Homo sapiens: one gene and its partner. The protein of the gene in region 1 purifies or fractionates together with the protein of each later gene. This does not show direct contact. Each region holds a gene or a part of one and is shown in the gene's direction. Other genes may lie near its edges. The genes, in order: EML4 and NPHP4.

The links.
Region 2: the proteins of EML4 (region 1) and NPHP4 purify together in Homo sapiens (co-immunoprecipitation; one large-scale study listed by IntAct). This does not show direct contact.

Annotation. Positions count from the first base shown.
Region 1 is NC_000002.12:42,329,643-42,333,306, forward strand, and holds the end of EML4 (echinoderm microtubule-associated protein-like 4), read left to right. Parts: intron 1-91; coding exon 92-565; 3' UTR 566-2,906; downstream 2,907-3,664. UniProt on the Homo sapiens protein: Essential for the formation and stability of microtubules (MTs). Required for the organization of the mitotic spindle and for the proper attachment of kinetochores to MTs. Promotes the recruitment of NUDC to the mitotic spindle for mitotic progression.
Region 2 is NC_000001.11:5,908,876-5,912,691, reverse strand, and holds part of NPHP4 (nephrocystin-4), read left to right. Parts: intron 1-3,478; coding exon 3,479-3,540; intron 3,541-3,816. UniProt on the Homo sapiens protein: Involved in the organization of apical junctions; the function is proposed to implicate a NPHP1-4-8 module. Does not seem to be strictly required for ciliogenesis. Required for building functional cilia.

The DNA of each region.
Region 1 (3,664 bases):
GTTTACCCCCCTTACGTATCACCTCCATTTCTGAAACAGGCATGTCAAGAATGAGTTTAATTTTCCTGTCTGTCTGATTTATTTCATATAGGCTCCCAGTCACAAGTACAGTGCCCACAGCAGCCATGTCACCAATGTCAGTTTTACTCACAATGACAGTCACCTGATATCAACTGGTGGAAAAGACATGAGCATCATTCAGTGGAAACTTGTGGAAAAGTTATCTTTGCCTCAGAATGAGACTGTAGCGGATACTACTCTAACCAAAGCCCCCGTCTCTTCCACTGAAAGTGTCATCCAATCTAATACTCCCACACCGCCTCCTTCTCAGCCCTTAAATGAGACAGCTGAAGAGGAAAGTAGAATAAGCAGTTCTCCCACACTTCTGGAGAACAGCCTGGAACAAACTGTGGAGCCAAGTGAAGACCACAGCGAGGAGGAGAGTGAAGAGGGCAGCGGAGACCTTGGTGAGCCTCTTTATGAAGAGCCATGCAACGAGATAAGCAAGGAGCAGGCCAAAGCCACCCTTCTGGAGGACCAGCAAGACCCTTCGCCCTCGTCCTAACACCCTGGCTTCAGTGCAACTCTTTTCCTTCAGCTGCATGTGATTTTGTGATAAAGTTCAGGTAACAGGATGGGCAGTGATGGAGAATCACTGTTGATTGAGATTTTGGTTTCCATGTGATTTGTTTTCTTCAATAGTCTTATTTTCAGTCTCTCAAATACAGCCAACTTAAAGTTTTAGTTTGGTGTTTATTGAAAATTAACCAAACTTAATACTAGGAGAAGACTGAATCATTAATGATGTCTCACAAATTACTGTGTACCTAAGTGGTGTGATGTAAATACTGGAAACAAAAACAGCAGTTGCATTGATTTTGAAAACAAACCCCCTTGTTATCTGAACATGTTTTCTTCAGGAACAACCAGAGGTATCACAAACACTGTTACTCATCTACTGGCTCAGACTGTACTACTTTTTTTTTTTTTTTTCCTGAAAAAGAAACCAGAAAAAAATGTACTCTTACTGAGATACCCTCTCACCCCAAATGTGTAATGGAAAATTTTTAATTAAGAAAAACTTCAGTTTTGCCAAGTGCAATGGTGTTGCCTTCTTTAAAAAATGCCGTTTTCTTACACTACCAGTGGATGTCCAGACATGCTCTTAGTCTACTAGAGAGGTGCTGCCTTTTCTAAGTCATAATGAGGAACAGTCCCTTAATTTCTTGTGTGCAACTCTGTTTTATCCTAGAACTAAGAGAGCATTGGTTTGTTAAAGAGCTTTCAATGTATATTAAAACCTTCAATACTCAGAAATGATGGATTCCTCCAAGGAGTCCTTTACTAGCCTAAACATTCTCAAATGTTTGAGATTCAAGTGAATGGAAGGAAAACCACATGCCTTTAAAACTAAACTGTAATAATTACCTGGCTAATTTCAGCTAAGCCTTCATCATAATTTGTTCCCTCAGTAATAGGAGAAATATAAATACAGTAAGTTTAGATTATTGAATTGGTGCTTGAAATTTATTGGTTTTGTTGTAATTTTATACAGATTATATGAGGGATAAGATACTCATCAAATTGCAAATTCTTTTTTTTACAGAAGTGTGGGTAACAGTCACAGCAGTTTTTTTTACCAACAGCATACTTAACAGACTTGCTGTGTAGCAGTTTTTTTCTGGTGGAGTTGCTGTAAGTCTTGTAAGTCTAATGTGGCTATCCTACTCTTTTGGGCAATGCATGTATTATGCATTGGAAAGGTATTTTTTTTAAGTTCTGTTGGCTAGCTATGGTTTTCAGTACATTTCCTACTTTAAGAGTAATTACTGACAAATATGTATTTCCTATATGTTTATACTTTGATTATAAAAAAGTATTTTGTTTTGATTTTTTAACTTGCTGCATTGTTTTGATACTTTCTATTTTTTTGGTCAAATCATGTTTAGAAACTTTGGATGAGTTAAGAAGTCTTAAGTATGCAGGCGTTTACGTGATTGTGCCATTCCAAAGTGCATCAGAACTGTCATTCCCTTCTAATATCTTCTCAGGAGTAATACAAATCAGGTATTTCATCATCATTTGGTAATATGAAAACTCCAGTGAACTCCCAAGGACATTTACAACATTTATATTCACACGCTGTATGGAAGGGTGTGGGTGTGTGTGAAGGGGCGAGTGGAGACACTGTGTGTATCTCTAGATAAGAAGATATGCACCACGTTGAAAATACTCAGTGTAGATCTCTATGTGTATAGGTATCTGTATATCTTTCCTTTTGTTTACAACTGTTAAAAAACCTCAAAATAGTTCTCTTCAAAAGAAGAGAGATTCCAAGCAACCCATCTTTCTTCAGTATGTATGTTCTGTACATACTTATCGGAGCGCGCCAGTAAGTATCAGGCATATATATCTGTCTGTTAGCAATGATTATTACATCATCAGATCAGCATGTGCTATACTCCCTGCAAGAAATATACTGACATGAACAGGCAGTTCTTGGAGAAGAAAGAGCATTTCTTTAAGTACCTGGGGAATACAGCTCTCAGTGATCAGCAGGGAGTTTATTTGAGGACATCAGTCACCTTTGGGGTTGCCATGTACAATGAGATTTATAATCATGATACTCTTCGGTGGTAGTTTCAAAAGACACTACTAATACGCAGGAAGCGTTCCAGCTATTTAATGCTGGCAACTACTGTTTAATGGTCAGTTAAATCTGTGATAATGGTTGGAAGTGGGTGGGGTTATGAAATTGTAGATGTTTTTAGAAAAACTTGTGAATGAAAATGAATCCAAGTGTTTCATGTGAAGATGTTGAGCCATTGCTATCATGCATTCCTGTCTCATGGCAGAAAATTTTGAAGATTAAAAAATAAAATAATCAAAATGTTTCCTCTTTCTAAGTGCGTCTTAACTCTTTCTTCATTTATACTGAGAGTTTCCATGACTATCCAGTTATCAGAAGGCATGACAATTCAGAAGACAACATTTATCAGTGGGCTACTGCTGCTGCTGTGGATAAAATCATTCTGGTAGTAACAAACTCCCATCTCATAATGTTAGAGGAAATTACTTCTGATTTATGCTCCCCCTGAATATGTGGATAGCTTTGTTTTCACTTATTTCATGTCAGCACTTTCTCTAATGTTTAATATTGGATAATCCTGATAATCTTCGTTACCCATCCGACTAGGCTGCCTCGCAGTGTTAGCCTTTGTGAAGTACTTGAACTCAGTAGGCCATGGCATTCTCTGCTTTCTCCCATCTCTCCCATGTTGCTTTTTAACGCAGATCTTCTGTATACCACAATCACAAATTGGCTACTACAAATGTTTCTTTATAAAGAATAGGTTGATTGATAGTATTCCAAACATTCCCCAGGTTTACAATCATAGAAATGATGGGGTTTTCATTATTGCCTTACTCGTCCCTGGTGACTGAATATTCACAGCCACTTACTTACATATACTAATCCATGAGAGGCTATCCTGGGGTAGGAGTTCCATTTTCACTGATTCTGAGACAGAATGGCTAGTGGGCACCAAAACAAACCCACTCAACAATGTGATTTTTCTTCACAAGTAAGAAAATCCAAAACTACTTCTATGGCGAAATGATGAATTAGATTTTGGGCACATTGAGGTGTTGTATTAGTGTAACT
Region 2 (3,816 bases), on another chromosome or scaffold:
TTTAATTTACTTTAAGTTTTATGGGCAATGTAGGAATACGCGTTTCCTAGCATGTCTCATGGGTGTGGTTACCACGAGTTTGCCAGCACACCCGTATACACTGTGGGTTTCTTTCATTTTTCTTTTTTCTTTTTTCTTTTTTTTTTTTTTTTTTGAGACGGAGTCTCACTGTGTTGCCCAGGCTGGAGTGCAGTGGCGCGATCTCGGCTCACCGAAAGCTCCGCCTCCCGGGTTCACGCCATTCTCCTGCCTCAGCCTCCTGAGTAGCTGGGACTACAGGTGCCCACCACCATACCCGGCTAATTTTTTGTATTTTTAGTAGAGATGGGGTTTCACCGTGTTAGCCAGGATGGTCTCGATCTCCTGACCTTGTGATCCACCCGCCTCGGCCTCCCAAAGTGCTGGGATTACAGGCGTGAGCCACCGTGCCCGGCCTATCGTCACTTTTTAACTTGCCGCGGCTGCCTTCCCAGTTCTGCACACACCGGCTGGTCTCCTCCCATCCCATTGCTCCCCTGCCCCACGCAGGATCTGCCGGGTTCTGCTGAGGTAGCTTCCATTTGCAGGAGCACCAGGATTGTGTCTAATGTTTTGCTGTTGTCGCAGCGCTGCCCCAGACAGCCTTGTGCTCGTCTGTCTGCTCACCGCAGCTGCTCCTACCTGTGTCCTGTGCACACGCATGCTGCTCCCGGTTCAGTTGCTGGCCCAGGTGCTTGTCAGCCAAGTCCTGTTATGTGGCGGAAGTCAGGCTTCCCAGACTCCACCGTGGTTTTTGGAAGACTCCTGGGGCCTGGAGTACAGCGGGTGCTCCCTGGCGGCCGCGCTGTCCTCTGGGCAGGACTATGAGTATAGTTTGGGAAGCACCTTAACCCATAACCACATCGAACATTAAAACAAAGAGATTCGAAACTGAGTTATTTCGTGGCCTTGGTGTGTCTCTTCCTGCTCTGCTTCACCGGTTGGATCTGAGTTTTGGGCCCTGGGGGTCTGGGCTTCCCACCAGGTATCTTTTTAAATGGCCACCTTTAATGGCCTTTTTAAATGGCCTTGTAGGTAGGTTTACTCTCTTGGAAGAAAAAATTGCATAAGTCATGATATAAAGAGTTACTTGAAAAAACTTTCCACACTGTATGCAAATTTGAGACGATGGGGAAATAAAATGCATGCGAGAAGTTCAGATGTGCTTGGAAGGTTTAACTTTTCATCCAGCTTTTCCTCCCCAAGAGGACGCACACAGGCACGGAGGGCTGGCCCCCGAGTGCCCGCTGTCTCTGCTGAAGATAATGGAGCCATTTCTGGCAATTTGTCCTCATTATCAAAATCAGCCTGCGGAGTTTTCCGAGTTCCCATTTACGGAGGAACGGCGTGGAGCTTCACTTACCACTCTGCTGTGTCATCTTTCAGGCTTTTTCTGGGAGGAGGTGGGCAGGGGTTTGCCGTACGGAGCTCTGAAATGGACTGTAAGAGGCACTCAGGGAATCTGGGGAGAGGCATCGGCTTTGAGGACAGCTGGGCCCCTGCAGAATCCTCATCTGCATTTTGCTTTTAGTGAGATGATATTTTCCTGGGGAAGCAGAGCTTGCTAGATCATTTGCTAACTCCCTCCGAGCACGTGAGCTCATTTATAGAAGGGCAGGTTCCTCTGACCAGAGTCTTTGTGCTCCTTGGAGCCACGTTACTGTGGCTGGTTACAGAGGAGCTGCGCGGGCCAAATGGGCGCTGCCCAGGAGGTAGTTGGACTGGGAGCTGTGCCCGCCAGGCTGGGCAGTTGGATCCTCTGAGGGTTGGGGGCTCCCTCTGGCCTTGCCCCAATGCCTTCCACCCATCCACAGGCCCTTAGCAGGGTTTCCACCAGATCCTGCAGCTGGGGAAGCACCTCCTTGGATGGGTTCTGGAAGCTGCTGGGAGAGGCACGGCGGGGATTGGCTCCGATGGTCGTGCAGCTCTGGTGTTAGGGCGGCACTTTCTGGATTTGGTTTCTCCTTGGTCGACAGCATTTTCCTTGTTGTTTTTGTTTTTTTGGGATTCAGAGCGGAACACGAAGTGGCTGAGCAGTCTCTATCCAGAGTGCCCAGCGTTTGACGTCACAGGCCTCTGTGCTGTGTGCTTGGTCCGTAGGTCCCGTAAGTGCCGGCCTGTGCTCTGTGCCATAGGAATTCAGGATACCAGGACATATAGGAGATTCGTTTGCCCAACCTTCATGGCAGCAGAGGCCACAGGAGAGGGAGGGAAGGCGAGCTGCTGGGCCCAAGATGTGGGCCACATGGGGGTGACGGGAGGTGGGACAGGGCCATGGGGGAAGCCTGATTTCTCCGGAGGTCTGGGTTATCCTGGAAGTCCGATGGGGAGTGGTAGTGTCTGCTGCAGTGGAGAGTCCTGTCACCGTGAAGGAGGCTGTCATGAGCCAGGTGGGGACAGGACATGGGCTGGAGACTGGGCTGTGGGCCTCAGGGAAGCCAGGCAGATGACTCAGTGTGCAGGGCTCCCACCCTGGCCTCTGAGTGGGCAGAGGTGGCCCCGTCAGGATGGGCTTGGGGTCTGGCTTGGTGGTTTCATGGTGGGCAAAGGCAAATGGCAGTGTATGTGAAATGACCGTAAGAGACGAGTGGCTATGGACGCTCCAGCACCGCTGTGGCAGGAGCCTGGTGGGTTTCAGAGACTCCAGCGATGCTGGGGCTTCCTCCTGCTGAGGTGCAGGGGCTGAGAGCCCTGGGTCTGCTGGGCCATGAGGTGTCCATGTGGCCTGGGGAGGGGTTGCAGAAGCAGCACAAATGCCAGCTGGGCTGAGGCGGGGCTGGGCAGGTACAGGTGGCCCTGGGAGGAGGCTGCTGGCTCTTTAGGCAGCCCCTGGATGCTTGGGAGGCAGCTGTGGCCTTATAAAGGGCCAAGGCAGTTCTCAGTCCCTGGCTCCAGGGGGACCCCATGAAGGGCTGGCCTTGCCTCCCCCAGGTGCGCCTCCCAGTGTTACCGGGCCTGCATGGAGAATCCTCAGCAGGACCTGGCGGACAGCTTGTGCTTAGTGGGTGTTCGTGAGGCCGCAAGCCAGGTTGGCAGTGTCTGCTCAGGAGCTTCTCGGTTAACAAAACAGCCGGAGTCAGGGAGCTGCAAGACTGGGGCAACCTCAGACCCCAGCTCTTCCGGGCAGGGAAGATGCAAAGATGACTAGTGAGGAGAAGCGTGTTAGGGAGCTCCAAGCACCCCAAGCTGTGAGACCTGCTGGCCCAGGAAGAACAGTGAGGACGAGGCCAGCTGTACCCCCTCTCCTGGCTGCTGGTGCATGCCAGGGCTCTAGATAGACAGCGACACTTTTGGGTGGCACCCTTGCTGCTGTTGCCCCTGAACGGTAACCAGCGGCTGCCCCTGTTACAGACAAGGTGGTGAGGCCTGTGGAGACCTGACTGCGTGGGGGTTCAGGGGCCCACTGCCCCCAACACAGGCTGACACATTCCCTCTCCTACCCCACTGTGCTTCCTCCCAGGCCCGCCAGCGCCAGTACCTCGAGTTCTCGCTGCCCCGCAGAACTCACCTGTGGGACCAGGGGTAAGTCCAGGCCCCCCACGGCCTCCTTCAGAATTCCAGAGTCAATTACTTGCAAGAAAACCCTCTGTCCCCCCTTAAGCACAGTGGATCCCTGCGTGCTTCTGCGTGGCTGGGGAGGGCCTGCTGGCGGCGGCGGGGCTGTCCCCTCCTACCCTGTCTGTGCAGCCTGTCCCTGATGTTCTGACTCCCAGTGCGGGCTTTTAGTGGGGCTGCTGCTTGCAACCCCTATGCTGCTGTATGGGGCGTCTCCACATCTCCCTGGCAGCTGCATCTCAT